Linked DNA regions of Homo sapiens: region 2 is linked to region 1. Evidence: fine-mapped expression QTL. A gene starts in region 1. The other region holds a variant in brackets. All regions are shown on one strand. Distances are from middle to middle.

Region 1 (15,736 bases):
AGAGAACAGCCAAGGGATTGGAGTTCTTGAAGCTGAAGTACAGATGCACTGGAAGTCATTCAGCTAAAAAGCTAGAAAAATGGGCAAAGAGCAGAAGAGTTTTTTAAGTTTTTAAGGGTGTAGCTGCTGACATAAATAATTATAAGATTCAGAGACTGGGTGGCTTCATGAAAAGGTAAAGGTCACTAAATTTGAGGTCAAGCAGTTGAGAGCCAGGATATTGGTTTAGTTAACCACATGGAATTTGAAGTGACCGTCATAAAGGTGGGACTTGGGGAGAAGAGGGTAACTATAAGCCAGGTGCCAAAGTCTTCAGTGAATGAAATGAAATGAATGGGAATGGCAGGGACAGGAAGTTCAGAAAATAATAAAGTCATATTGTATAAGCACATCTAAAGAAGGATGCCAGCTGCTCTCCCCAGATCCAACTGATGCTAGCTGGTGGGAAAAGACCACAGACCCAAGGCTGCTAAATATCTTGCGATGTTTAAGAGAGTATAATGACAATACAGCAACCTGACCTATCCAAAATGTTACTACTGCTCCTGCTGAGAAATACAGCCATCAAACTGTTTAGAGTGCCTTCTCAAAGAAGCCTGGCTATTTCACATGTCATGGCATCTCTGAAGCCCTTTCGAAGGATCATTTGTGTCCTCTCTCTACCCCTACACATACGTCCACCACAGTATGGCTCATACTTTATGTATTTTTTTTTTGATTGATTGATTGATCGACTGGAGACAAGGTCTCACTCTGTCACCAGGCTGGAATGCAGTGGCAAAATCACAGCTCACTGAAGCCTTGACCTCCTAAGCTCAAGTGATCTTCCCACCTCAGCCTCCTGAACAGCCAGGACTACAGTTGCAAACCACCACACCTGGCTAATTTTTTTTTATTTTTTGTAGAGATGAGATCCCTATGTTGCCCACAGTGGTCTGAACTCCTGGCCTCAAGCGATCCTCCTGTCTCAGCCTCACAAAGTGCTAGGATTATAGGCATGAGCCACCACACCTAGCTACATGTATACATTTAAATGTCACTCTCCCATAGGTACTTGCAGGGCTGAGGCAAGATGTAGTCATCTTTTCATGCCTATCTCTTAATGCTGTGTAAGCACTTCATAAATGTTATATAAGAGTTCTCACAGTCACCAAATCAGGGAACAGAGCATAAAAAGAATACTCTCCTATGAAGATGGGTCATGAAGCATTTAAGCTTTGACTATAAAGAATGATTTTTTTCTGGCTGGGCACGGTGGCTCATGCCTGTAATCCCAGCACTTTGGGAGGCCGAGCGGGGTGGATCACTTGAAGTCAGGAATTCGAGACCAGGTGAAACTCTGTCTCTACTGAAAAAATACAAAACTTAGCTGGGTGTGGTGACGGGTGCCTGTAATCCCCTCTACCCAGGAGGCTGAGGCAGGAGAATCGCTTGAATCTGGGAGGCAGAGGGTACAGTGAGCAGAGACTGCGCCACTGCACTCCAGCCTGGGCAACAGCGAGACCAGGCCTCAACAGAAAAGAAAAAAGAAAAGAAAAGGAGATTTTCCAATAAAGATTAGAAAGGAGGTGTGATATTTTTTCACCAACTGGTAGGATAACATTTTTAAATACTCCTGATGAGAAGTAGTCATGGCTGACACCCAAAAGTAAAAACTCAGGATTTGGAGAATAAAGTTGTTAGTTAACTTGGAAAATCCTTTACCCAGTACACTAAACTAAAAACGATGATGTCTTAAATTAGCAAAATCCCTTTGTATTCCTCATTCTCTAAAAACTTTTTAAAAATTTACTTACCCTAGAGTTTAAATGAGATGCTTATAAATTCATCTTTGCTGTAGGTTAAGTAATGAGAGGGTTTTAAAATTTTGTTTCTGTTCCTCCTTGCAAGTGTCCCATGCCTGTTTTATTCTTTTTAGTCACTGAGATTATCTCCAAATGTCAAATTTTCAAATTAATCTGTATTTGATATAAATTCTTGAACATGTAGAAAAAGTAGGGAAAACAAAGTGAATATATCTTATGATTTCAGCCTAGGTGAATTCACATTTTGTTAGGGTGGGGGGTTTACTGTTATTCGTTTACAGGAAAACAGAAAGATGGAGAAAAACGGTGTGGAAATAATAAAAACTTTAAAGGAAAACAATTTTCAGGGTAGTACAAAACAATCCTTAGGTACTTAAAAAATTATTGAAAGAACATATTTGCTCCAAATTTAATGATATCACTTCTCCTTCAGTTCTTTAAACTTGAAATCTTTGATTAATAAGCATAAACTTCTGTGAAAACATCATAAAATGAATTACTTTTTTGGACTCATAAAATAATTTATTATAGGCCCTTGGCCTTATTCTCCTTTGGGTTTGGAGAACTCAGTAAAGTATACATTACAAAGTTTGTGCAAGGAAGTAAGTACTAACAGAAGTGAATACTATTCCCTCCTCATTACTGCACAGGCATAACTAAAGAATAAAAACTTTGTGTTTTCTGTAAAAAAGGACTCTGAGAAAAGGAAATTGATAGTGAAAATTCCAAGATGTTCATGGTCAATGTTCACTCAGTAATGAAGTGCTATCAAGTGGTACAGAGTTTTATTTTAGTGGCAGGAATTTTTGTAATTATGTAAATGATTTTACTCCTATATTTGGTCTTTAAAAATTGAATATACAGGCATATACCCTTTACAGAATTATGTAAGTAAAATTATAGCCATAATCACATTTAACAATTGAAACGATTTTTAACATCTGGATTATGAATATAAAATAATTTCTTGTATCTCATGTTTAGTTAAAACACTGTGTTATTTGAGGGTAACATTTTTTTTGTTAATTTTCCCAAATCCCTTCCTGATGATACCTCACACACTGGCTTTTCTGGCCACAGCACAAAACTCAGCTGATTATCTACAGAGAACAGTCTACAACTCTATAATTATTCCTGTGCCACCTTCCTGGTTCTAACCGAAAGTACAGACTATTAGACATCCATAATTACGGTTGGAATAATTTCTCCTGTTAACATTATTCTTACACTTGCCCACCCAAAAACTTGGAACACTTTTCTGCCCACTGACATAATTTCAATTATGACATAATTTCAATTGTAGTTTATTTTTATTGTTCATAACTCAGAAATATTCAATATTATTTGTATACTAGGAAAGATAGTATGCCTAATCACCTCCAGAATACTCACAAAAATTAAATAAGCTATCAAATCACATTTTTAAAACTTTTTTTACAATCAAGATTTCTAAAAATTAAATAATGTTCCTATACTTTGGCCACTTTAAAAATAAATCAGATTCTTTGTTGGAAAGTCTATAAGCCAGCATTTCAATTTTTACTATAACTCTTCGAGGAACAAAATATACCCCATACTTGATGACAATCAGCAATAATCAGCAGAAGAAAAGATATTTGGAAAGAAAGACAGTTTACAACAGTGAACTTCTGAATGCAAAAAATTTCAGTGCAAAATAGTTTTACACTATTAATACTATTGCAGTCATGTGCTACATAATGACATTTCACTGACGGTCCCATAAAGTTATAATATTTTTACTGTACCTTTTCTATGTCTAGACATGTTTACATATGCAAATACCATTGTGTTACAACCACCTATGGTATCCAGTACAGTAACATGCTATACAGGTTTGTAACCTAGGAGCAATACGCCATACCATACAGATATGTAGTAGCCCATACCATGTAGATTTATGTAAGTACACGCACAATAACAAAATCACCCAACACATTTCTCAGAATGTATCCCTGTCATTAAGCGATGCATGACTGTGTATTTTATGTCTAATTCAAGTCAAACACAATTTTTTAATATTGTATTTGTAATATGAAATGAAGACGTGGCAGGGCACAGTGGCTGATGCCTGTAATCCTAGAACTTTGGAAGCTGAGGCAGGCAGATGGCTTGAGCCCAGAAGTTCAAGACCAGCCTGGGAAATATGGTAAGACCCTGTCTCTACAAAAAAATTCAAAAATTAACTGGTGCGGTGGTGTGTGCCTGTAGTCCTAGCTACTTGGGAGGCTGAGGCGGGAGGATCACTTGAGCCTTGGAGGCAGAGGTTGCAGTGAGCCAAGATAGCGTCACTGCACTCCAGCATGAGCAACAGAGTGAGATTGTCTCAAACAAAGAAAAAAGAAATGAAGACTTGTTTACTTCATTGAGTAAATGATTACTGAACACTCACTATGTGCCAGGCATGTTCTCAATATGGGGGATTCACAGGTGATAAAGACAAACATAGTTTCTACTTTTCCATTATCATGAAGCCCAAATTTTTTAAAAATTTATTTTGCAGATGTCATCAAACGAAGTCTATGTGTTATCTTGAATCATTTACATTCAAAAATACTTAATCCTGCAATAAAATGTTAAAAAGTCACAGATGTTACAGAGTCAGGGTTGAAAAAGAGCTCATTAGTTCCAAGATGCACATTATTTTACATTTTGACATCTCTGAAATCAGTCACATCTTACAATGTAATCAGACTAGACGGCAATGGAGATGGAGTTGGCACTGCCGTGCATCAAAACTTCAAAACTCAGAATGAGCACTAGGGGCTTGGAAGAAAATCCCAGGTTTGATGGTAAAGGCACCATTTTAAGGAATTTTTTTTTTTTTTTTTGTGGTAGAGATGGGATATCGCTATGCTGACTGACCAGGCTGGTCTCAAACTCCTGGCCTCAAGCAATCCTCCCATCTGGGCCTCCCAAAGTGGTGGGATTACAGGCGTGAAGCACCACACCCAGCCTTAAGGATTTCTGATGATTCAAGATTCAATAAAACATAATAGTTCAAAGTTTTCATTTATTATAGGTGAGGAAAATGAAATTCAGAGTGGTCACACAACTTGCCCTAGTTTACAAAGCTGGACAGGTAGAATAGAGTCCAGGTCTGTTTTCTACAGTCATTCACTCTTCTACCAGTGTTCAGTTATATGGAGGAAAAGGGTGTCATACAAAACAAGTAGGTAAGAAGATGGCTCTAAGTTACAAAGACGGATTTGTAACTTAATCCGTCCTTGCCTCAGTTTCTCCATCTATTAAAACAGGGATTTAACAAACCTAACTCACAGTACTGCTGTAAGCATTAAATAAAATATGTCTAGCAATTATCACAAAGATTGGCATATGGTAAATACTCCATAAATGTCAACTACTTGAGATCAAACTTTACATTTATTATACACTAAGTCAAGCCCACATATAGTTGTCTAAAGCGCTTGAAAACTAAATAAACTGGTCAAGTGTTTGAAGTGATAAATACAATGAAAATTTCCACCTTAACAATGTTTTGTCCAGGTACTATGCCAAGAACCCAATAGACCTACCTGCAAGAAACCATACAAAAAGCAAGATTCCAGGCTGGCATGACGATCAAATTATGTACTTCAATGCGTGTGAATGCATTTATAAGCACAGTCTCAATACATAAATAAGGAACAAAATATTTAAAATGTATAAACAGATCATTTCTCTTTGCTTTCTTTAAAATACTATATCAGAATCACCTGAGGAACTTGATAACAATTTTTTTAAAAACTATTATAACTACGTATATTAAGCCTTGTTAAAACCACAAGTTTTAGAGGTTTAAGCCTTACTAGGTCAGCTCTTCTGATTTTGAGAGTTTAAGTGAAAATTTAAATTATAACACAGTATGTGGAGTAAACCTGCTTCAAATATTAGTTTCTACATTATTGTTTCTATAAAAATAGTAATCTTCTGTATTTTAATATCAACTCATCACATATTAAATATTTCAGTCAAATCAAAATTTCATTTGAAATCTTCAATCTAAAAAATACACAGTTAAGCGCTTAAAAAGTAATTTTAACCACTAGGAAATGTTAATGATTAACTCACATTTGTTTCTGTTTCACTCCATGACAAAGTCTATAGGACACCCTGCAGAGAGGAAAACTCACATTAATATACCCATAATTTTACTTTCAGAAGCTTCTGGTAATCAAAGACTTATTATGAGGTGTCTTCATGTTACCACTGCGCAGTAGCAAACTTAAAATATTCTAAAGATTAATCTATTTTCTCATTTTTTTAATGCTTTTGTTAAAATCTCAACAAGTACTAACATGTTATCTAAATTTAAACCTTAAAACAATAACACGACCCAATATGTGAACTCTGCCTATTAATTCTAAAACTTTTAATAATAGTTTGCTTATGTTTGAGACTTAAAACAATAACATACTGCACTACACCCATCTTAGATATTTTCTAGGATCAAAGTCTATCTGGAGCAGGGCAAGCTGTGGTTGAGGGTGGTTGGGTCAGCAGGTAAGAGCCTTATGACCAGCTCTAAACGCCTCCACGGTGAGGAGCACCTCGAGCTAACAGACCAAGCACCAAAGGGTGGAACAGCTCAAGGTTGCATTTAGGAGACTCCAGCCTCGGCCGCCCGTGACTCCTCGACGAGCCCCACCTCTCTCGGTTCCAGCATCCGGCCCGCCCCTTCCTCCCAGGCTACCACAGTATCGCCCGCCGAGCTCCCGGGCTGCGGGAAATGACGGAAACAAAAACTTGGTACACAAAGAAGGGCTAGGTCAGAAGTGAGGTCCCACCCTGGCAAGAAGGGCGACTTTTCTAGAAAAACTTAGCGGCAAGTTAACGGGAAGCGCGGCGACACAGTTCCTACGATTGTGGGGGGCACTCTGCCGCCAGGCAGTCTCATCCTTTGTCCTTTGAGAGGCCTCCTTGAAGCCGAAGGCTCTTAAGTGTCCCTGGGCAACCCTTGACTCGATCTCCATTACGGGCCCTCACTGACAGCAGCCATGACAGTTGCTTCCGGATATATTGAATCGCCGCGGCCAGAGTCTCCCGGAAGTGACGCAACGCGGAGGGATCCGCGTTCGGCAGTGGGAGACCGAAGCGAAGTGGTTCCCGGAAGCGGCTGCAGCTGGGCTGCTGGTGGCGGGGCGGGGGTAGAGTGGGGAGAGAGGTTGTGGGTCTTACAACCAACCAACCCCAACACGTTTTACGTGTTAGGCAGGCATTGTGCTGAACACCTCATTGGCAAGCCATTTAATCCCTTCCTTACAATCCCAGCAGTCAGAAATGTATCACTTACATTTTATATATGGGGAAACTAAGGTTAAGAGAGGGCAAGTAAATTTGTCCGAGATCGTATAGCTGGTACTTGGTGAACGTGGTCTAACCCAGACACCGCGTTCTCCCTGGTGACTCCATTTTGTAAAACCAGAGCTGTTGGCGCATGGCATCCTCGTAAGCCCCTTTAAGTTAGGCACTCTGTTGCCCAGAGAGGGGCCAACTTGTAGCCAGTATGCTCTTTATGGTGAACACAAGGCCCACGTGTGTGCCTGGGTCCCCTTGGCTGAACCTCGGATTTCAATTGGTTTCTGACACCTTGCCTTTGCAGCATTCTCCGTCTGCAGCGCTGGTTACCTGAGGAAACTGTCAATGATTGCTAGGCTCTGGGGAACATTTTAGCTCCGTTTAGGCCCTTTTAAATCCAGGACTAAGACAGTTGGAGGCCTCTCACCATCACCAGATACTCTAGCTGGCCTTAACAGAGGGCCAAGGACCATAATCTTGGACTTTCCACCAGACCAAGTGTTTGTTTGGCTTCTGTTTCTTTAGAATATGACTGAAAACCAATCTGTAGTTTGTTTAGTCTTCTTTCTGCATTGACCAGTACTCACATAATAAAGTGGGACTAGCCACTAAGGCTATGTTTTTGTAAAAACAAATTATGCCTAGAAAAACACAAGAAATACATCAAAATTAACAGTGATAGTGTTTGAATAGAGAGTGATTTTATTTTTTTCTCTCTGCTTTCTCTTTTGCATATCTGCTATAAAACCCTTTTAAAATAGAAAAATAAGCAAACTGGCTATGGTAAAAACATTTTTAATTGCCTGCTGTTATAATGACGGCAAAGGCATGTTGTCACATTTTGATAAATGACCGTCCTTGATACAAATCACGTAGAGAAATCCTGTTTGACTAGAAAAGCATTGGATTTTTGTGAGTCAGTGTATTCTCAAAATTTTCGATATTTTGTTTTGGTTCTATAATCCTCACAGGAAAAGTAAAAAAGCAAATTGATGTTTTTCACACACTTTCGTATGAGAGTATGCTACCACCAAAAGTCTTCCCTAAAACAAAGTTGCAGGGGTCAAGTCATGTGGGGCGTTTGGATACTTGAAATGGTGGAGAACAAATATAAAAAGCTATTTTTATTCTGGCTGCTTTGGGGTACAGTTTTAAGCAATTTATTTCAGACTGCCAAAGAAAGCTTCATTCTTTATTCACATACTCTACTTCCCACTATTGCTTATTAGTGACTTCTAAAGCAGTGACAAAACAAGTAAAAGAAGATAGAAAGGAAAAATGAGAAGGGATCACGGGAAGAAGAAAATGTGGAGGAACAAAGACAGATGGTGATATTGGGGTTACTTTGGAACTCCAGGGTAGCATGTAACAGCCTTCTTATCCAAGTCCTGGCACAGGCCTGGTTGCCTACTAAAAGGTAAATTAGCATCTATGATGTTCCTGCTCACATACTCAGCACCCACAGTGATAAGTCTTACTAAAAATTCATCTTGATGCGCATTCAAATTAGACATATATTTTAACAAAAATGGAGGGGTTGAACAACAAGAAATGTAAAGTAAAATCCCATCATTTTTCCTGTTTTTTTATCTTACCATGTCATTCATTCATCCTGTGGTTAGTAGTATAACTATAAACTGGAAGTTTTGCCTGCAGCATTATAAAGCAACAACTATGAAACGCCAAAGTGAGGTGCTGACAAGATGCATGTTTTCCAAAGAAATGTCTTTACATTAGTCTGGCTCTGATGAGAAGTTGTTATGATGGGATTAAATGTGCAACAATTTTATTAGAGGAAACACCTGTGAGAGAGAATGGGCGGGAGCCAAGCAAGACTGGGAGAGGCTGCAAGTCTGAAATTGAGTAAAGCAGAGAGAGAGGGAAGGGTGGTGGAAGTTTCCTGGACTGCCAAACAGTCTAAGCAAGATTTAGAAAGGCTATTGGAAATCCTCAAGCCAAAATCACCTGTCAGAGGAGTCCTTCTTTCAGGAGCCAGCCTGCCTTATTATCTGTGCTGCTCTCAGTCACCGGCTGGAGCAGCCCATGGGTGAAAATGTGGCCAGGGAATTCAGAGTGCAGCAAGCATCTAGAGCCCTTGATCAGTTTTGCTCCCTGTATTGGCAGCCACAGTCCAAGAACTGGTTTTGCCGCTATTGGAACCTTTCACCAGTTTCATGGGTTAAAAGAAGATGTTGAAAGAGATGAGTTTATGAGGAGAAGTTTTGGGGAGAGCCATTGTTATATGCTTCCCCAGTCACCTTCAAGTCTAGTGAAGGGGGCTTCAATAGCAATACTCAGAGAACTTGACATGCATTTCCTGGGTTTTGAGAGGTACAGTAGTATCGTGACTCACATCTGGGAAATCCCAGGGGTAGGAGAGATGGGCCAGTGAGAATTTTGGCATAGGAGTGAAGGAAAGTTGCTATGTTGGGATCTGTAGTCACTGCCGTAGTTTGTCAAGGCAAATGATGCCTGAGTGTTTCTCGTGCAGCAGATGTGGGCCACGTGAAAAAAAGAGAAAGTTGGCCTGAGACCTTTTTGACTCTTGTGTATGGAGAGAATCTGTATGGTATGGATTGTTAGAGAAGCCATAGCTGTAGATGGAGCAATAGCTGGAGGAACAGAATGTATTGCCTATCTAGAGTGACCAACTTGTCCAGTGCCCTTGGACTTTCCCTGCTTTAGTACCAAAAGTCCCAAGTCCCAGGAATCCATGTTTGATCATTCTGTGTGTCATAGGAGTTGCAGCATCCAACGAACCTAAAAATCACCCGTGAGAGTGAGCCAAGTTTAAGTTTCAAGCAGGTCTAGAGTGTAAAACCAGCTTATGACCATGCCGGGATTAAAGTAGATTTTAGCAGAGGACAATTTGAAAATGACGCTGAAACAAAAATTTCTACACACTCTTTTTTTGGAGTGTGTATTAGTCTGTTGACACAGCCAAAATACCATAGACTGAGTGGCTTACACACAGAGATTTATTTTCTCACTGTCCTGGAAGCTCAAAGTTCAAAACCAGGGTTTTGACCAATTTGCTTTCTGGTGAGGGGCATTCTTCCTGGGTTGCAGCTGGCTGCCTTCTCACAATATCCTCATATGGCCTTTCCTCGGTACATACTCGAGATGAAGAGGCGTGGAAGAGAAAGAGAGAGAACTTTCTGGTGTATCTTCTTATAAGACACTAATTCTGTCAGATCAGGGACCCACCCTTATGACCTCATTTCATCTTAATTACTTCCTTAGAGGCCCCATCTCCAGATATAGCCACAGCGGGGGTTAGGGCTTTACCATATGAATTTGACGGGCACACAAACGTTCAATCCATCACAGAGTGTGACTCTGCAACACAGAGATACCTTTTTTGGGTAGGGGCGGTCATGAGAACATTAGGTCTGTGTTTATGTCTCACACTCTTAAGGAGAAGTTATGCTATGGTGACTTTGCAGCCCTGTATCTTTATGAACAAATGTAAATATGATGTCTATAGATCGTTTGTGACACTTTTAGAGCTCTTTAGACATTACTTTAATCTTGTCAAGGAAAGTTGGATACCCAGAGGACCCTGTTATTTTTGTGTTCTGCAGAGCAGAGGATGTCACACGCTAATGTTCACACTACTGAACTCATGAGGAAACCCACAACAGACTCTGTGTACATAGTGATCAGGACTTGGGCTAAGCCCTGGGGCTTGTACTTAGCTACAGGGACTTAGTAAACAGTGGAACTATTCTGATAAGGGATATGTTACTGCTTCTATTTATGAAATTTGATTTTTTTTAAAGTTAACACAGGATTGGCTAATCAGAGAATATATCCTCTTACATCTTTTTTACAAATATGAACTCAAGTAGTTGTAAGACTCCAGCTTAAAAGGCCAGTATATTAAGAATGAATTGCTGTTAAACAAAACAAAACAAAAAAAAGACAGACATAGATTTGAGCTTCCTTTAGCATCCACTTGATCCTTCCAGGAGGTATAGCTGTTTTTTTAATTCCTTAAGGGGTATAATAGTTGGAATTATGTTCAGCTATGAGGAAGTAATAGAAATTTTCAAAATAAGTTTATTTAAACATGACATAAATTAATTTTTTTTTCTTTTAAGACATCTAGATGAAATCAATTTAGAGTTCGTACAGTTATTCATGGGGTGAGGATTCCAGGCTCCTCCTATCTTGTTGCTCCACTATCTGTGGTGTCCATTTTCCAAGGTAATTTCATGATCTAAGATGGCTGTTAGAGCTGTAGCCATTCCAGTGAACAGGAAAGACTAGGGGATTCAAAGAAAAGCACAATTGTTTCATTTCAGGATAGTTCCCAAATGTTACACACAATCCTCTGCAAGACATGTGGAAAAGGTGGTATTTTATTTTCTGGTAAGCCAGTGCCCAGCTAAAAAATTAGTTTTTATTACTCTATAACAAGGGTCAGAAAATGATGGCCAATTGGTGAGTTGCCTGTTTTTATAAATAAAATGTTATTGGAACACAGCCATGCTCATTTTACCTGTCGTCCATGTCTACATGTTCTTTTAAATGATTTTATTGACATAATTCACATTATACAATTTGCCCACTTAAAGTGTAAAATTCAGTGGCTATTAGCATTCACAGAATTATGCATCTATCACCACAATCAAGTCTAAAACATTTCCATTGTCCTGAAAAACCCCACGACCTTTAGGTATCTCTCCAATCCCCCATATCTGCTACCCATAATCTTTCTGTCTGTATAGATTTGCCTACTTTGGACTTTTCATGTAAGTGGAATCATACAATAATTTGGGTCTTTTGGGTCTAGCTTCTTTCACTTAGCATAATGTTTTCAAGATTCATCCATACTGTAGCATGTATCAGTACTCCATTTCTTTCTGTGGCCAGATATTCCATTAATGGATATACCACCGGGTGTTTATTCATTCATCAGTTGATGGACATTTGGGTTGTTTCTTCCTTTTAGCTATTGTGAATAATGCTTCTATAAATATTCATGTACACATTTTTTTGTGGACATATGTTTTCATTTCTCTTGGGTATATTCCTAGGAGTAAAATTACTGGGTCTTGTGGTAAAGGTATGTTTAACCGTTTCAGAAACTACTAGACTATTTTCCAATGTGACTGCACCAATTTCCCACCTTCAGAAACATGTTTGTATCTGAATGCATATCTCCTATATTTTAAATAAATAAATATATGCAGGGAAAAAATAATAGATCAGAAAGAGAGAGAATCCCATTGTTATTCTGGTTGTCCCTAAGATTTGCTCTATCCCTCTCCTATCTGAGGTTTGATTATTATGTGAGCGAATAAGTCCTCTTTTTTTTTTTTTTTTTTTTGGGACAGAGTCTCACTCTGTCACCCAGGCTGGAGTGCAGTGGCATGATCTTGGCTCCCTGCAACCTCCTCCTCCCAGGTTCAAGTGATTCTCCTGCCTTAGCCTCCTGAGTAGCTGGGATTATAGGCACGTGCCACCATGCCCAGCTAATTTTTGTATTTTTAATAGAGACAGGGTTTTGCCATGTTGGCCAGGCTGGTCTTGAACTCCTGACCTCAGGTGATCTGCCCACCTTGGCCTCTCAAAGTGCTGGGATTACAGGCGTGAGCCACCACTCCGGCCAATCCTCCTTTTTATTTGAGCTATTTTGCATTAGGTCTCTGATACTTGCAAACAAAGGCAACTTGCAACTAATACAGAATGTGAACCTGCTAAAACAGTTGTACAGCCATGACATTATTCATGCTAAAAGGAGGTGGCTATTAGAAATAAACACTTGAAAAATACAACTTTCTATCAACTGTGATAGAAATCAGTAGTGACAACCAATATCAGTTTCCTCCTGTTATTTTTGGGCACGCAGCTAGACTATGTTTCCCAGATCCCCTTGTACTTAGATAAGATTATATGACTAGATGTCACCAGTGGAATGTGAGAAGTGATGGGTGTCATGATTGTAGTGGTTAAATATGGATATTGACTTATTTTTCTACTTTCCTTTTCTGAAGGCCAGGTGTGGAGAATTCAGAGGACTCTGCTTCTTGGGGAAGGTGGAGCTACTAGATATTAAAAACTTAGGTCCCTGAATGACTGCATGGAGTAGAACCCTTTCATTATGTCTGTTAACCCATATTGGACCGGGACATGAAAAAGCAATAATCCTTTATTCTGTTAAAATACGAAAGTAAAACAAAAACAAAAATAGCAGGTAGCCTACTTTAATACATCTACAGCCTTAAAATACTTCCTTATGGATTTTGATGGTTCTGGCTAATTTGGGCAAAAAATATGGCATAAAATATCAATCATCTGAATAAATGTGATTAAGATTTAACCAAGGTCATCATGAGAAATACTATAGTAGTATAGCTATTGGTGGTACCTATTCAAAGGATCACATACTAGTTTCCATATCCAGTTTGTGGAAGTCTTCGAAGCAATGTTTAAAGATGAGTTACCTAGAGATTGTGTGAACATAAAAATGTGGATGATCTAGAGGACAGAAGCAATTACCCTGATGAAGATGTAAAAGTTGTCACTGTAAATATCTATCACTGAAATCTCACATCATTTGTATTATTCAAATGTGTGTCCAGTGAGGCAAAAGAACTCATGGTATTAATTTGAATGCCACATATTGGTTCTTTAGAAATCATTTCCCTCCTCCTTTAGAAATCACTTCCTCCTTCACCTAGGACAAACCACAGATAACTGCACAGGCTCTGTAAATGGTTTTAAGAAGTCTTCAACGATGCCCCTAAGAACATATTTGGTTCCCTTCTGGTAGATTAAATGCTACCTAGCCTGAGGAAGACCCCCTGTGTACTAGTATTTTTCTCCTACCATGAGTGACATATTGTAAAAGCATTAGGCATCCAGATGTTCTACTTCTCATTGCTTTTCTAAATGTTTTATTGAGATATACCTTCTACTATAAGATGACTCATTGTTAGGCAGTATTTATCAAGCAGCTATGCCAGTTATCAACTGATTGCCTCTCAGCCCCAAATTTACCTTTTTGCCTGATCAGTAAACATGGACCTGGGTCCTTGAAATATTTTTCCTTAGCCAGTGGGCATGATGTTAATCTTCTTAAGAAGTGGGAGCTGGAGAGACATTGCAGGAGGAGGAAGTTTTCCTTCCTGGTCCTGGTGGCTTTTATTCTCTATTGCTTGGCCTCTATTCTCTATTGCTTTTATTTTCTATAGCTTGGCCTGTGTAGTTTTCTCCGGTATGAGGTACCTAAAGGAGGCAGATTTCTCTAGTGGCCACTGTGTCAATTTCTAGACTTGGGTGGCAGAGGCATAGCCAGGAGAATGGCATGAATTTGTGCCTTCCCAGGTCACTGCTCTCTTCGCCCATTCTTCAGACCCACAATGTGTACATGCCTGGAGCCCTGCAAGCTGGCTGTGAGGAGCCCTGCAAGCAACGCTACCCTGGCTCTAGTGAGCCAGCCACCCAAGCTTTGCCTGTGCAGCTGCCCAGAGCTGCCCTTGTCCAAGCCACACACAGAAGCACTAGTTTCCTGTAGCTCCCAGTTCCAGCAGCATCCACAGTGGTGCTCTATCTTGTTCTGTGCACTTGACTTCCTGCCTAACACCCACCTACCAGTGTGAGCTTGCCTGTACCCTCCTGCTTACCCAACAACTAGGCATAAATACATCTTTACAACTTTGCGTCTTCCAATTCATGAATATTGTATATTTCTCCTTTTATTTCGTTGTTCTTTAGTGTCTTTTACTGAAGTATTATAGTTTTATCTACAAATATTTTACATACTGTTTAAACATCTATTCCTAGTATTTCATATTTTAATGATATAATAAATGGCATCATCTTTAAGTTTTTAATTTTTAACTATTTGATTGGAGTGCAACACATTTTTATATGTTGATTTTGTATATCCAGCAACTTTGCTAAACTTTCATATTACTTTTAATCATCTATATATAGGTTCTGTTTAATTTTCTATATCCCAAATTGTGTCATCTGTGAATTCTTCTTTTCTAATCTTTATGGTTTTATTTATTTTTCTTGCTTTATGTACCAGTGAAGACACAAAATATAATGTTGAATAGAAATGGTGTTAATGTCTGCCTGGCATGGTGGCTCACGCCTATAATCCCAGCACTTTGGGAGGCCGAGGCGGGCGGATCCCGAGGTCAGGAGTTTGAGACCAGCCTGGCCAACATAGTGAAACCCCGTCTCTACTAAAAATACAAAAAAAAATTTAGCCAGGTGTGGTGGCACATGCCTGTAGTCCCAGCTACTCGGGAGGCTGAAGCAAGAGAATTGCTTGAATCCTTCTCTTTTCTCTTTCTTTTCTTTTCTTTCTTTTTTTCAGATAGGGTCTTACTTTGTCACCCAGGCTGAAGTGCAGTGGTGCAATTGCTGCAGCCTCAAACTCTCAGACTCAGATGATTCTCCCATCTCAGCTTCCTGAGTAGCTGGGACTACAGGTTGCATCACCACACTCAGCTAATTTTTTTGTATTTTTTGTAGAGATGGGGTTTTGCCATGTTGCCCAGGCTGGCCTCAAACTCCTGGACTCAAGCAATCTGCCCACCTCAGCCTCCCAAAGTGCTGGGGTTATAGGCTTAAGCCATGGTGCCCAGCCAAAA
Region 2 (15,736 bases), 200 kb before region 1:
CATGAATGGGAATAGTGCTCTTATAAGAAGAGACATAAAAGAGATGATCTCTTTCTTGGATATGTGAGGATACAGCAAGAAGGTGTCTGTTTGCAAACCAGGAAGAGAGCCTTCACCAGGAACTGAATGAGCTGGCATCTTGATCTTGAACTTCCCAGCTGTCAGAACTGTAAGGAATAAATTTCTGTTGTTTACACTACCCAGTGTATGGTATTTTTGTTAACAGCAGTCTTAACTAAGACAGCCAAAAAGTTATATTGTCTCTTTCCAACGAGGTAATTGATTTTAAGTACAAAGCAGTGGCCAGCCCTGTTCTATTTAGTACATGAGTCAACATGAGTTCAGGAAAATTTTACTTAAGTCTAATCTATTCCTAATTCAAATTATTTCTGGCCAGTTTGAATAAATCCTCCCAGATAACTCTAGTTTTCTTTCCAATACTGACCTCCAAATTACTTGAGCAGGACCTGCCTTTTTCTGAGGACTACATTTAGTCTGAAATATCTGGGTTTTTTTGTTTTTTTTTGAGACAGAGTTTCGCTCTTGTTGCCCAGGCTGGAGTGCAAATGGCATGATCTTGGCTCACTGCAAGCTCTGCCTCCCAGCTTCAAGCGATTCTCCTGCCTCAGCCTCCCAAGTAGCTGGGATTACAGGCGCCTGCCACCATGCCCGGCTAATTTTTGTATTTTTAGTAAAGACAGGGTTTCACCACGTTGGCCAGGCTAGTCTGGAACTGCTGACCTCAGGTGATCTACCCACCTCGGCCTTCCAAAGTGCTGGGATTACAGGCATGAACCACTGCATCCAGCCCTCTAGTCTGAAATATCTTGATACTCACCCTCTACAAGCCTTTCCTCTTTCTGAGCTGTAGCTTACCTAGACACCTGAATTTCCTTTTCAGCTATCATTCGTTGGAACCCAGACCTGGTAGGTGTTTCTTAAAATTTTCAGGCAGTTTATTTTCATGTTAGCTCTACAGCCTCACAGAAAATCAAAATCATGTAAGCAGTAGTATGTAACCAATATTTGGGTCCTAGAAGTACCCAAGCGTATTTTAAATGTTCATGGGACCTTGCAATCATCAAATCCAAATTTTTCATTTTATAGAAAAGAAAAGTGGGCCAGGTGTTGTGGCTCATGCCTGTAATCCCAGCACTTTGGGAAGTCGAGGTGGGCAGATCACCTGAGGTGAGGCAGTTGAGACCAGCCTGGCCAACATGGTGAAACCCTGTCTCTACTAAAAATACAAAAAAAACATTTGCCAGGCATGGTGGTGTGTGCCTGTAGTCCCAGCTACTTGGGAGGCAGAGGCAGGAGAATCGCTTGAACCCAGGAGGTGGAGGTTGCAGTGAGCCGAAATCGTGCCACTATCCTCCAGCCTGGGTGACAGGGTGAGACTCTGTCTCAAAAAAAAAAAAAAAAAAAAAAAAAAAAAAAAATGACTCCCAGAAAAGACAGATCACTTAAAGCTAGACAGTGGGAAAACAACAAAAGTAGTCATTTGTGGGTCCCCAAGACCAGTGTCATCCTTTTAAACTAGACAAACGCTTAAACCTCATATTTTCAATTCAGTCCAACAAATATTTATGAAGAACCGAAGTAGTATTTGACCTAAAATGGCTAGTCAAAGCTGGTCCATATTTACAATCTAATTACATAGGCTCTTAAAACTGGAGAACCTTTCTGGCTGTGGAGATGTGACTATGGGTGAAAGTTACACAGAGATGCAAAGTTGTTGACTTTGAAGATGAAGGAAGGGGGCCAATATCCATGAAGTGTGGGTGGCATCTAGAAGCTGCAAAAGGCAAGGAAACAAATCCCCTGTAGGGCCTCCAGGAAAGAATGCAGGCCTGGTGACACCTGATTTTAGCCCACTGAGACCCTCGTTGGACTTCTAACCTACGGAACTGTAAGGTTTTTTAAGCCACTAAATTTGCGATAATTTGTAATAGCAGCAATGGAAAATCAACCCATTGGCACTGATCACAAACTCAAATTTCCAATTTCCTCTCTGGTCCAAGTATCAACCCAAAAAGTAGGGATGTAAAATAGAACTCTGATTCATGAGGGCAGTGAATCTAGAAGGTTCTCAGACATGGGTACATGAAATGATCACTTTTTAATTTTGATGTAATTGCTCTTGGATGGGACCAGACATCAGGTTAAAAAAATGTCATAATAAATTCTAATGTATAATTAAGTTCAAAACTCTATTCTAGGAACAAAAGAAAATAAGCATCTGAATTGCCTGTTGAGGGAATAACTTTGTTCTCTAATAGGTACCCAGGACTTTTTCTTTTTTTGAGAGACAGAGTCTCACTCTGTCACCCAGGCTGGAGTACAGTGGCACCACCATGGCTCACTGCACACTCAACCTCCCAGGCTCAAGTGATCCTCCTGCCTCAACCTCCCAAGTAGCTTGGACCAAGGTACACACTACCACACCCAGCTAAATTTTTATTTTTTGTAGAGGTGGGATCTTCCTATGTTGCCCAAGCTGGTCTTGAACTCCTGGGCTCAAGTGATCCTCCTGGCTCAGCCAAAGTGCTGGGATCACAGGTGTGAGCTACTGTGCCTGGCCAGTAGCTAAGATTTCTTAGAAGACAAACACCATATCCTTACACCCAAACTGGTACAGCTAGAAGTTTTATAGACAGCAGTCAGCACAGGTTGCCAAGATGAGCAAAGCTGTGTTTCATTAAAGCATTACGAGGGTTATCCTTCAGATTTTAGCCAAAGGACTACGTACACAACTGCAGGCACCTGTGCCCCAGCAGTTCAATGACTTTGAGAGCTGGTGAAGCTAATTATCTCTTCTCTACTTAATGCATCAACCTGGGTGATTGGTACCAAGTGAGAAACCTGGGAATCAACCCATTCTTCCCCCCAACTCACTCACCTACATCTCTTTGCCATTATTTTAATAAGTCTCTCTTTAAAAATCTTCAACTGTTTTCCTCACCATCTCTTCTGCCACTGCCTTAGATTAGGCCCCTAATTAATTTTTCCTTTAATTTCTGTAATTGTTCCCACACTAATCTCTGTGCCCCCAACCTACTTCCATTCTTCGATACTGTGAAACATATATTTGGTCATAGTCCATTTCCTGACATACAACTCCCAAAACCCTTGGAATCTCCAGAGTGGTAAGAGTGCCTTTTGTATACTACTGAGATGACTGGTGATTGGGGCCCCTGATAGCCTCAGCACGGGGACTGGTCCTCAGAAAAACCAAGGCAGGATTAAAGTGTTGGGACTTTCAGCTCTATCCCCCAACCTTTGGGGAGGGGAGAAAGGCTGTAGGTTAATCTCCTTGCCAATGGCCAGTAATTTAATCCATCATCCTACCTAACGAAGCTTCCATAAAAATACAAAAGGCTTGGGTTTGGACAACTTCTGGATAGCTGAACATGCGGAGGTTCCTAGAAGGTGGCTTGCCTGGAAAGGGCATGGAAGCCTGGCTCCCCTTCCCGCGTACTTTGCCCTGTGCATCTCTTGTCTGGTTGTTCCTCTGTATCCTTTGCAATGTCCTTTTTAATGAATGGGTAAACATAAGTGTTTCCCCGCATACTGTGAGTCACTCTAGGAAATTAATAGAATGATTTAGGAGGGGTTGTGGGAACTCTGATTTATAGTTGTCAGAAGTACAGACTGCAACCTGGGGCTTGTGATTGGCATCTGAAGTGGGGGACAGTTTTGTAAGACTAAGTCCTCAACCTATGGGATCTGATGCTATCTCCAGGTAGATAGTGTCAACAGAATTGAATTAGCGGACACCCAGATGGTGTACATAGCAGAACTGCTTGATGTTTGTGGGAAAATCCCCACACATCTGGAGTCAGAAGTGTTGAGTAGCTGTGTGAGAGCAGGGAAAATACCTTTTTTCCTACATGTAACCTATCTATTCGAATCTATCTTACTCTCTGGTGCCAGAATGATCTAAGATACATAACTTATTATGTGACTTCTACATAAAATGCCTCTGTGACTACATTTTGCCTTTAGGTTGCAATTCAAATCTTCGTAAGACAAGTCAGCTCCTTGGAGCTCTCACCCTTGCTATCTGCCCCTAGGTGAACCTATAATCTAGGCATTCTCACTACTTGTGAATCCCCCATGCGCCATGCTTTCACACCTCTGTGATCCAGCTTACATTGTTTTCTTTGCCTAGCCAACTCTTCCTTTACATTTCTGCTCAGACATCAGAATACTGACTCCACTTCTCCATTAACCTTCTCTGAGTACCCATACTTTCACTATCTGAAATTGCCTTATTTGTTGAATGCCTTTCTCCAGCACCATCCACACATTCGTTGTTTCATCCCATCATCAAATGTGTTTTAGGTGCCCAAAATATTCCAGATACCGTTTAAACACTTAGAGATACCAAATCAATCAAAGTCCCTGTCCTCAAGAGGGACAGACCAAAAGCAAGTACACACATCATCTCTGATAGTAATAAGTGCTTTGAAGGAAATCAAGATCATACAATCAACAGTGACTAGAAGAGAGGAACAGCACTAAATAAGACAGTCATGGAAGGCTGGCCCTCTGAGAAGGTGACATTTGAACCGAGCCATGCAAAGATAAAGCATTCTAGGCAGAGGAAACAGCAAGTGCAAAATCCCATCATATAAGGCCTTGCAAGCCCACACAGATTTACAATCTTCATGGCCTGGTCTGGGTTAACCTGAAATAATCAAAAGGATCAAAATCCAGTCGAGATTATTCAAGTAAAAAGCTGGGAATAGCCATTTGGGAGACACAGACTCCAGAGAAATAGAGTCAGTGTTCCAAAGTTCAAAGTTAAATTATTGCATATATAGGCAGAAAACAAAGAAGTTTAGTAGGTTTATAACATTTTCTAGAACGCTAGTTTATGAGTTTCTTTTCTGTATGGCTTGTTTTCTTTACAGTTGGTTTTCATTTCCTTTCTGATTTAAAAGAGGTATTTAACACTCCATCTTAACACGGTGTGATAGCCATGAAACCTTTGGGTGAGAAACTAAAAGGGAAGTTAATCTATAATAAAAATCAACAGTAACAGGGAAGGGGTCTTTCCTGGAGCCCTTTAGTCATTTGTAACATTTTGTACAACAATGTAAGCAAGGAGGAAGGTTAATCTATAATCATAGAAACAAAGATTACAGCTTCCCAGGTTACAGCTGCTTGTAACGTGACTCAGGCCCCATAATCACATTTCTTTAAGGATCAAAATAGTTTGGAGTTCCAACAGCTTAGATTTTGAATTACTTATTTTCACACCTGTCTTATTCATTGCTGAATCCTCAGAGCTAAGCAGAGTGCCAGGACACAGTAGGTATTCCATAAACACTTGTGGAATGGATAAAGTGTCTATTTGCTGGTTTACTTACCTATCTCCTTGAAGGCAAGGGCTCCTTCTGACCTCTGTAGGTCTAGTGTTGAGCTGTATGCCTGGCACATAGAGGTGCTTAACAGAGTTGCTAAGCAGCATATAAAAGATGTTGCTTGAGTACCATACAGCATATAAAAGATGTTGCATGAATACCATTATCTTCATTAGAGAAGATAAAATTAAATGGAAAGTATTCTTTAGGAATATGCCACTGAGTTTAGGCTAAAAGACACTAAGATTTTTGAATTGTTCCAGTGTTGCTTAGTTTCATAAAGTAGAAAACTGACATCCAGGCATGTTATAAAAGCAATCTTCTCAGGGAAAAATTATATATTAGTATCTATAAATAGCAATCACAACCTTAGATGGATATTAATGTTGACATGAGCTCAGAAAATGACTTATATGAATTCTAGTAAAAGATCCCCAGAGTTAATTTTCTGGTATTGTTAATTTTCAGATGTCATCTATTGGGAAGAACATTTCTTTAGGTAGGGACTAAAAACAAGCACAAGTAAAAGGTTGCAAAGGGAAGAAGACTATAAGGAGAGAACATTTTATCAAGCAGCTCTTATAAGAAATTAGGAACCAATAAATTTTCCTCCCAGAATACCTGAATAAATACTGAGAAGGAAATCCCTAGCTTTCAGGCAAAATTCAGTTTCTGGTTTGATTTTATTTAGCTTATGAAACACTGAAAGATCATAATGCAAACAAAACAGATATGGTGTCAAAGAAACAAATATACATAAAACATTCATTCTTTTTATGAGCTATATAAACTATCCCAAAGACCTGTGATTTGAAAAGAAAGTGTTCCTTAGAGAAGTGGGGATTTTGTACATAACTGAGGTATGCGAAACATTTAGGGGTCATCTGGCAGACATGACAGCCAAAGTGACAAGAGAATGGGAATAAAAGCAAAGCCAAAGAAAGAGTTTTATAAAACCTCTACAGTGAGAAGAATAGGAGACAACCAAAGTGATTGAGAGCTATCAGAAAAGAGGCAAACCTGGATAATTACTGTGTTCAAAATAAAAAAATATAAGTACAGGTTGAGGATCCCTCATCCATAATGCCCAGAAGTGTTTCAGATTTCAGATTTTTGTGGATTTTGGCATATTTGCACTATGCCAGTTGAGCATCCATAATCCCAAAATCTGAAATCTGAAATGCTCTAATGATCATTTCCTTTGAGTGTCAGTTTGGTGCTCAAAAAGTTCCATATTTCGGAGCATTTCAATTTTCAGATATTTGGATTTGGCATTCTCAATCTGTATGTGTAGATGCCAGATGCTGCAAAGAAAAGGCTGCAGGATTTGGCTAGATTGTTGGTGATTTCTGAGAAGGCAATTTCATTAAGTGGTGAAAACAAACCACACATTTAAGAAGAGAATGGGACAGTAAAGAAATGGAGGTGGTGATCACAGCCAAGGTGTTTTCAAATGTTTGACAATAGGCACAACAAGAAAGTGGAATAGTAGTTCATACAAGAGAATAGAAACCAACAGAATACTTCTAGGTATATTTGAAAGTAAGAGGAAAGCGGCAAGGGAGATTTAAGATGCCAGAGAGGAAAGTGATAGGGACAGTGAGATCCTAGAGCTAAAAAGGAATCACATTCTGTAGAAATGAAAGATTTTTTTCTTTAAAAAAAAAAGGAAAATTTTTCTAAGAATAAGGCAAAGACTAATAAAAAGGGAAATGGGGTAGTGATCTATTCTTATAGTGATAATTAAATTCTATTGCCAATAATCTTAAGCTTTATTGTAAAGAATGAATCTAAATGGGATAATGGCAGAAAGCCACTCAGGAATACAAAATGCAAATTATAAATAGGGAAATGCAAATTAAAAGCACAATGACATACCCTTTCAAACCCACTAAAATAATAAATAAAAATGATAGACAATAACAAATATTGGCAAGGCTAAACTCACCTTAAATAGTTGGGCAATTTGTTTAAAAGTTAAATATAAATTTACCATATGACCCAGAAATTTCACTCCTAGATATCAATCCATGAGAAATGAAAACATATATCCATACAAAGACCTCCATATGAATGTTCTTAGCAACCTTATTAACAGTAGCCAAAAATGGGAAACAACTGAAATGTCCACTGTGAACCCTGAATATCTGAGATAGGTCTCAGTTAATTTAGAAAGTTTATTTTGCCAAAGTTGAGGACATGTGCCTGTGAGACAGCCTCAGGAGGTCCTGATGACATGTGGCCAAGATAGAGCACAGTTTGGTTTTATACATTTTAGGGAGACATGAGACATAAATCAAATATATAAGATGAACACTGGTTTTGTCTGGAAAGGTGGGACAACTCAAAGCTGGGAGGGGGCTTCCAGGTCATAAGTAGATAAGAGACAAATGGCTGCATTCTTTTGAGTTTCTGATTAGCCTCTCCAAAGGAAGCAATCAGATATGCATTTATCTCAGTGAGTAGAGGGGTGACTTTGAATACAATGGGAGGCCGGTTTGCCCTAAGCAGTCCAGGCCTGACTTTTCCCTTTAGCTTAGTGATTTTGGGGCCCCAAGATTAATTTTCCTTTCACACCACCTACTGATGAATAGGTAGACAAAATGTGGTATATCCATATAATGTACTATTATTCAGCAAAAACACAAATGAACTACTGATATATGCTGTATATCATGGACAAACCTCAAAAACATTATGCTAAACGAAAGAAGCCAAACACAAGAGACCAATATTGTATGATTCCATTTATATGAAATGTCCACATGAGACAAATCTCTAGAGACAGAAACTACATTAATTGTTGCCTGGGGTGGGGGAATAGGAATGAACAATTCATGAACATGAAGGTTCTTATTAGGGAGATAGAAGTGTTTTAAAACTGATGTACAGTAATAGATGCATAAATAGGTAAATTTAATAAAAATCATTAAATTGTATGCTTGAAGTGGGTGAATTATATGGTATGTTAAATACCTAACCAACAAACAAATGGAAACACATCCCATGTACATGGATGGGTAGATTCAATATTGTGAAAATGACCATACCGCCAAAAGCAATCTGTAAATTCAATGCATTCCCATCAAAATACCACTGTCATTCTTCACAGAACTAGAAAAAACAATCCTAAGATGCATATGGAACCAAAAAAGAGCCCACATAGTCAAAGCAAGACTAAGCAAAAAGAACAAATCTGGAGATATCACATTACCCGACTTCATACTATAAGGCCATAATAACCAAAACAGCATGGCACTGGTATAAAAAGAGGCACATAGACCAATGGAATAGAAGAGAGAACCCAGAAATAAAGTCAAACACTTACAGCCAACTGATCTTCAACAAAGCAAACAAAAACATAAAGTGGGGAAAGGATACCCTATTCAACAAATTGTGCTGGGATAATTGGCAAGCCACATGTAGAAGAATGAAACTGGATCCTCATCTCTTACCTTATACAAAAATCAATTCAAGATGGATAAAAGACTTAAATCTAAGACCTAAAACCATAAAAATTCTAGAAGATAACATTGGAAAAACCCTTTTAGACATCGGCTTAGGCGAAGACTTCATAACCAAGAACCCAAAAGCAAATGTAACAAAGATAAATAGATGGGACTTAATTAAGCTAAAAAGCTTCTGCACAGCAA[G/GATAATAATAATAATA]ATAATAATAATAATAATAATAATAATAGTAATCAGCAGAGTAAACAGACAACCCACAGAGTGGGAGAAAATCTTTGCAATCTATGCATCCAATGAAGGACTAATATCCAGAATCTACAGGAACTCAAACAAATTAGCAAGAAAAAAACAAACAGTCCCATCAAAAAGTGGGCTAAGGACATGAATAGACAATTCTCAAAATAAGATATACAAATGGCCAACGAACATATGAAAAAATGCTCAACATCACTGATTATCAGGGAAATGCAAATCAAAACCACAATGCAATACTACCTTACTCCTGCAAGAATAGCCATAATCAAAAAAATAAAAATAAATAGATGTTGGTGTGGATGTGGTGAAAAGGGAACACTTTTACACTGCTGGTGGGAATGTAAATTAGTACAACCACTATGAAAAACAGTGTGGAGATTCCTTAAAGAACTAAAAGTAGAACTACATTTGATCCAGCAATCCCACTACTGGGTATCTACCCAGAGGAAAAGAAGTCATTATACAAAAAAGATACTTACACACACTTGTTTACAGCAGCACAATTCACAATTGCAAAATCTGCAAAAATATGGAACCAGTACAAATGCCCATCAATCAACGAGTGGATAAAGAAAATGTGGTGTGTATACACACACACACAAACACACACACACACACACACCCACGAGGGAATACCACTCAGCCACAACAAGGAATGAAATAATGGCATTTGTAGCAACCTGGATGGAACTGGAGACCATTATTCTAAGTGAAGTAACTCAGGAATGGAAAACCAAATATCGTATGTTCTCACTCATAAGTGGGAGCTAAGCTATGAGGACACAAAGGCATAAGAATGATACAATGAACTTTGGGGACTTGGGGGAAAGGCTGGGAGAGGGGATGAGGGATAAAAGAGTATACATTGGGTACAGTGTACACTGCTTGGGTGATGGGTGCACCAATATCTCAGAAATCACCACTAAAGAACTTCTGCACGTAAGCAAACATCACCTGTTCCCCAAAAACTATTGAAATAAAAAATATTAAAATGAATAAACATCATATATAATTTGGTTTATCCAGTAAATGACTAACTTTAAGAGAAATTCACAAATTGATTTTAAATGATTTAAATTTTTGTAACAAATTAGAATCCCTTATGCTTGATAAAACAATTAGTAAAACTAAGTAGAATCAAGTAATCTTTTCTGCATTTTAGTGTTCCTGATTCTTTTGAGCAAATATAGAAGGCCTGAAGACAATTTCATTTTAGAGTTTAAGAATTTTTCAGAATTTGTTTGATCCAAATCCCTCCATGTACTGGGGTCACTTGTGACAAGAAAAAAGAAAACCTTGACCATGGTCACATGGTAAGTCGGTAGCAGAACTAGACAAAAACTCAGCTCTCCTGATTTCTAATCTAATACTTTTTTCATTATCCCATGCAACCTCCCACATTTTCAGAACAGAAACAGAAAAATTAGAAGGAGAAAAGTAACCCAAACTCATAGGACTGTATCTTTTTTGGATTCCTACAAATACTCTTAAGCTTTGTTTCAGGAAGCAGTTACTTGGAAACAGTTTGATCCTTTCAGGTCTCGCTGTTAAGACTTATTAGGTAAGATCAGAGTAGTGTTTAGTCTAGAGTTCATTCCCCACTATTGAGACAAGGCCCTTCTGAACTCTACCCAGCATCCTGTGAATTATGAGGTTTTCCATAGATCAGAGTAGTGTTTAGTCTAGAGCTCATTATTCCTTACTATTATGAGGTTTTCCATAGATCAGAGTAGTGTTTAGTCTAGGGCTCATTATTTCCCACTATTGAGACAAGGCTCTTCTGAATGCTACCCAGTATCCTGTGAATTATGAGGTTTTCCATAACCTCATAATGGCTGGTGGGAAAAGTCCCTATTGCCAGCCCTAAGTGAGCTCCAAGTACTGTTCCTTCTAATCTTCTAGAGTAGCTCTTTCTCCAGCCTCAGGTACTTTCCTGAAATGCAGGGAAACCTTCTGCATTCCAGGAAAGTATCTGAGGGTTGGTAAAGAGTACCCTAGAATACTCTCCCTGGGCAGTACTCTCTTGTCCAGTGCTAGCTGCCTTGGTTTCCCAGGCGTCTCAGTTCTGTCCCCTTAACTTGGCAGTGACTTGCTCCATCATGATTCCCACTTTCTGCACCATGACCTGGAAACTCTCTCAAGGCAGCAAGCTGGAACATTTCTCAGAGATCACTGTCCTTCATTGCCTGATATCCAACTTCTTGGAAATTGTTGTTTCATATATTTTCTTCACTTTTTTTTTTGTTGTTTCAGGTGGGAGGGTTAATCTGGTCCCTGTTACTTCCTCTTATCTGAAAGCAGAAGTCCCAGTGGCGTCATTTTTTTTTTCTTACTCTGAAATCTTGGGTCTAACAACTCTCTCCTACTTTATGAATTGGCTAATAACAATTCCTTTTCTTTTAATAGCCTTTTCTTTTATCTGTTCTCATAATGAGAAGCACAATTAAATGCTTATAAAGCTTTGGTAAGAGGTACTTGGCAAAAATAAACAATTTAAGTATGATGACTACTGACAAAGACTCTCCTTAAGCAAAATTTAGTCAGGTTCCTTTGAGCCCATTCTCTACTAGGCCCGGTACTTGGGCCTTGTCCTCAAGAGCAAGAATCCTGTTAAGTCAGTTTTGTAAGAATCCCATCCTCATATCTGACCTCCTTCAATATCTGATCAAATTCCTCATCCTCCATTGCCCCCGAGGTGTTGTCTGATCATCCTGGCCTGCCTTCAGCAAGAATCCTGTTAGGTCTGTTTAACCAGAATTACCTCTTACCTTGATGTTTCCTCCTAGGAATTTTCCATCCACCGACCCCACTCTGTTCCTTGGTATGAATCCCCCCTTATTCTTCTTCTTTTCAGAACTGAGCACAGTTCTATACTCAAGTCCCTTACTTTATTCCAATAGTTCCTGAGTAAAATCTATTTTTTACTGCTTTCTTTACTGTCTAGCTCTGGTTTTAATACTATGTCTAATTTTACATAAAAATCCTTTATCACATATTCCACACTTTGAAACTCTAGCACTATCAACACCTAAGCTGAAAATGGTCTCTTATCCCTTAAAATTAAGGTTGTAAAAGTATTAAACTAAACAATAAAAAAAAAATCCACCTTGTTGTCATTGGCTCTAATTCTATATACTCCAAATACAAACAACTGTAGTGATTATGTCCCATTTAAGATTCTCTGCATTCCCTTTCCACATATTGGGAATTATTTCTATAAAGGCAGTAAGCAGGGTCAATGAAAACTTTAATCATTGCATTTTGGAGCCAAAGGGGACCTCAGAAAATCAATTTCTAATTGCTGTCTTTGTGGAGGTCAAAAACTGAAGTCTTGAAAGAATTTAACTGTCTTACTACTATATTATAGGAGACATGAGACTCAGTCATTATCCATCTTGAATTTTTAGTGATTTAAAATGTAGTATTATAGGCCGGGTGCGGTGGCTCACGCCTGCAATCTCAGCACTTTGGGAGGCTGAGGCGGGCGGATAACGAGGTCAGAAGATCGAGACCATCCTGGCTAACACAGTGAAACCTTGTCTCTACTAAAAATACATACAAAAAATTAGCCGGGCGTGGTGGCGGGCACCTGTAGTTCCAGCTACTCAGGAGGCTGAGGCAGGAGAATGGCATGAACCCGGGAGGCGGAGCTTGCAGTGAGCCGAGATCGCACCATTACACTCCAACTGGGGCGACAGTGCGAGACTCCATCTCAAAAAAAAAAAAAAGAAAGAAAATTTAGTATTACCATTGAACTCAACACTTGAAAAATGGTAGAACCATCCACATGCATAGTAAAACTACTATTTCCTTTGACTTAAATCTGGAACTTTAAAATATCAGACTTTAAAAGTGCATTAGCTTTTTAATCACTGGCATCATACTGCATCTAGTAAAATTCCACTTTTTCATGTGAACTGCTAAGACAGATGCTTTCATATCTTGTCACTGCAATTTTTAGTTTTCTCATAAGGTCTAAAAATTATTTTCCTCTAGAGCAGGGTTTTAAAATTCTGCTCTTCGAAGTGTCCTTCTGCCCCTTAGTCTGTGGGTGGAAAGTGAAGGAAGGAGAATAATTATCATGTCAAGTGGACTAAGTCTGGATCCTCAATCCCCTGCTTCAACCAACCCAACTCCCCACTTACCATATCTGCTTTATATAACGGGCTTCGGAGCAAGATTTAATTGAAAGATTTCTCTGTTAAAGTTCAAAAATTACTGTTGTAATACCCATCTCACTTACGTTTTTATTTCTTCCGTTTTCATCATATTGCTGTCTTTCCCTCCTTTTGTTTCTCTGTCCCTTTTTCACTTTTCCTATTTGCAACTATATTTCCTTCTAGTTATTTTGCTTTTTTAAAAGGATAAGTTCAGTGTTTTTTTTCCTCTTTGCACAACCAATGGTTTTTAGAAAAAGAATATTGTATGAGTATATGAAGGACTAAAAACATTGCTAAGAGATTATTCATGGGCAATTCTGAAATTAATATTAAAATAACCAAGAGAATATCTTAATTCACTTTCCAAGTGCAGTATTAAAAAAAAAATTCTTGCCAGATGTGGTGCCTCACGCCTGTAATCCTAGCACTTTGGGACGCCGAGGTGGGCAGATCATCTGAGGTCAGGAGTTTGAGACTAGCCTGGCCAACATGGCGAAACCCCACCTCTACTAAAAATACAAAAATTAGCCAGGCGTGGTGGCGGGCGCCTGTAATCCCAGCTACTCAGAAGGCTGAGGCAGGAGAATCACTTGAACCCAGGAGGCGGAGGTTGCAGTGGGCCGAGATCACGCCACTGCACTCCAACCCGAGTGACAGAGCAGGACTCTGTCTTAAAAAAACAAAATAACAACAAAACAAAAAACAAACTTTCTATTTTAAGACCTACCCATGATAACAATATACATTTGCAACTTTACCTTAACTTCATAATATCTTGTGGTGTATGTTAAATCAATAATTAATCCGAGCTCCTCATTTAGTGCTTTTATTGCGCTAATCAAGTCTTTTGGTATAAACTTCTGGGTTGGAGTAAGTCTCTGATTAACTGTCTATGATGAAAAATGAAAAATAAGGTTATAAAATACAGATAAAATGTTAACATTAAACATAGAACAAGGAAGAGAAAAAACATAAGACAATAAAAAGACTTGGTGAAAATGTCATAGCATAAGAATATTGACAAGCTTTTAACTAACTAGAGCTGTACAAATTGCCTAAACATATTCACATCCTTTGCCTCAGTGATTTCATGTCTTGGAAATTATCCTAAGGCAAGTATCAGAAATATTGGGGAAAAAGAGTTTGGGCGTAACATTCACTGCAACATTATGTATAATAGAAACACATTGGAATATCATGTTGCTGTTAAAAATCACATTTCTCAAAATTATTATTATTATTATTATTATTATTATTATGAGACAGAGTCTCACTCTGTCACCCAGGCTGGAGTGCAGTGGCGCAACCTTGGCTCACTGCAAGCTCCGCCTCCCGGGTTCACGCCATTCTCCTGCCTCAGCCTCCCGAGTAGCTGGGACTACAGGTGCCCACCACCACGCCTGGCTAATTGATTATTATTTTTTTAAATGAGGTCTCACTCTGTCACCTAGGATGTGGTGTAATGGTGCTATCATAGCTCACTGTATTCTTGAACTCTTGGGCTCAAGGGATCCTCCTTCCTCAGCCTCCCAAGTAGCTAGGACTACAGGTAGGCAATACCCTACCCAGGTATTAATTTTTTTTTTTTTTTTTTTTTTGGAGATAGGGTCTTGCTATGTTGTTGCCCAGGCTGGTCTTAAACTTCTGGCCTCAAGTGATCCTCCCACCTTGGCCTCCCAAAGTCCTTGGATTTCAGGCACCAGCCACCATGCCTGGCCACAAAGACTATTTAATAAGGAAAAATCCTCAAAATGTTACATAAAGATCACATCACAAAACTTTTACATACAGTGTTATTCTGATTTATTTTTGAAGGGGTAAGGAGAAGGAAAATATATCACTTTTAAAAGTGGAATTTCAATTGTTTTTCTTCTATACTCATATGTTTTCCATTTTTTTTCTATTTCCAACAGAAACTTTCTGTAAATGCTACTGTCATTACAGGATAAACTTCAAATCTACTGTGATTCTTTAAGGCCGTATACACACAGACTTATCCATATATTGAGTCTTACCTTTCACCACAGATCCCACCTGGAAACACTCTCCAGTCCGGCAGCTCTCCTTACAGTCCAACAAATACCTTAAGTTCGTTCCTCTTTCTGTGTCTTGTACCTTTCCTTAGGCTCCTTGACCATCTAAATCAGGGTTTCTCAACTGGGCACTAATATTTGGGGTGAAACATTGTTGTGGGGCTGTCCTGTGCATCGTGGGACATTTAGCAGCACCCCTGGCCTCTGCATACTGAATGCCAAGAGCACCCCCTCCCCAGACCCTCCAAGTTATGACAATCAAACATGTCTCCAGACATTGTCAAATGTCTCCTGGTGGACAAAATCACCCTGGCATGACTCACTGAAACTAATGCTTTAAGTAATTAATGTAATATAGTCCAAGTACATAAGTCTGAGTGGTCCAGCTTGATCCATAGGGAGTGATGAATGGACTGCACAGTCTTTAAATGACCTTCTGCAATAATACTTCTTTCAGCCAAACTTCT

Which allele goes with the higher level. Alleles are on the strand shown, and positions count from the first base shown. SD is a standard deviation of normalised expression in the study named.
With allele GATAATAATAATAATA in place of G in region 2, the expression in Th2 cells of the gene that starts at base 6,864 in region 1 is higher (large effect, 1.1 SD a copy in Schmiedel 2018).

The links. PIP is the estimated chance that this variant, and not a neighbour inherited with it, causes the effect.
Region 2: its variant is fine-mapped to the expression of ENTPD1-AS1 in Th2 cells (Schmiedel 2018, PIP 0.95).

Annotation. Positions count from the first base shown.
Region 1 is chr10:96,083,372-96,099,107 of GRCh38, forward strand. ENTPD1-AS1 (ENTPD1 antisense RNA 1) reads right to left here and starts at 6,864. Exons shown (of 6, transcript NR_038444.1): 1 at 6,611-6,864; 2 at 5,895-5,936. RefSeq lists enhancers at 6,584-6,953, 6,964-7,013.
Region 2 is chr10:95,884,893-95,900,628 of GRCh38, forward strand. All of the region lies in intron 2 of ENTPD1-AS1 (ENTPD1 antisense RNA 1), which reads right to left. Among named protein-coding and RNA genes, the nearest start is that of CC2D2B, 15 kb to the right of the region's middle. RefSeq lists silencers at 649-808, 11,287-11,487. The variant G/GATAATAATAATAATA (reference allele first, on the strand shown) is at 9,023.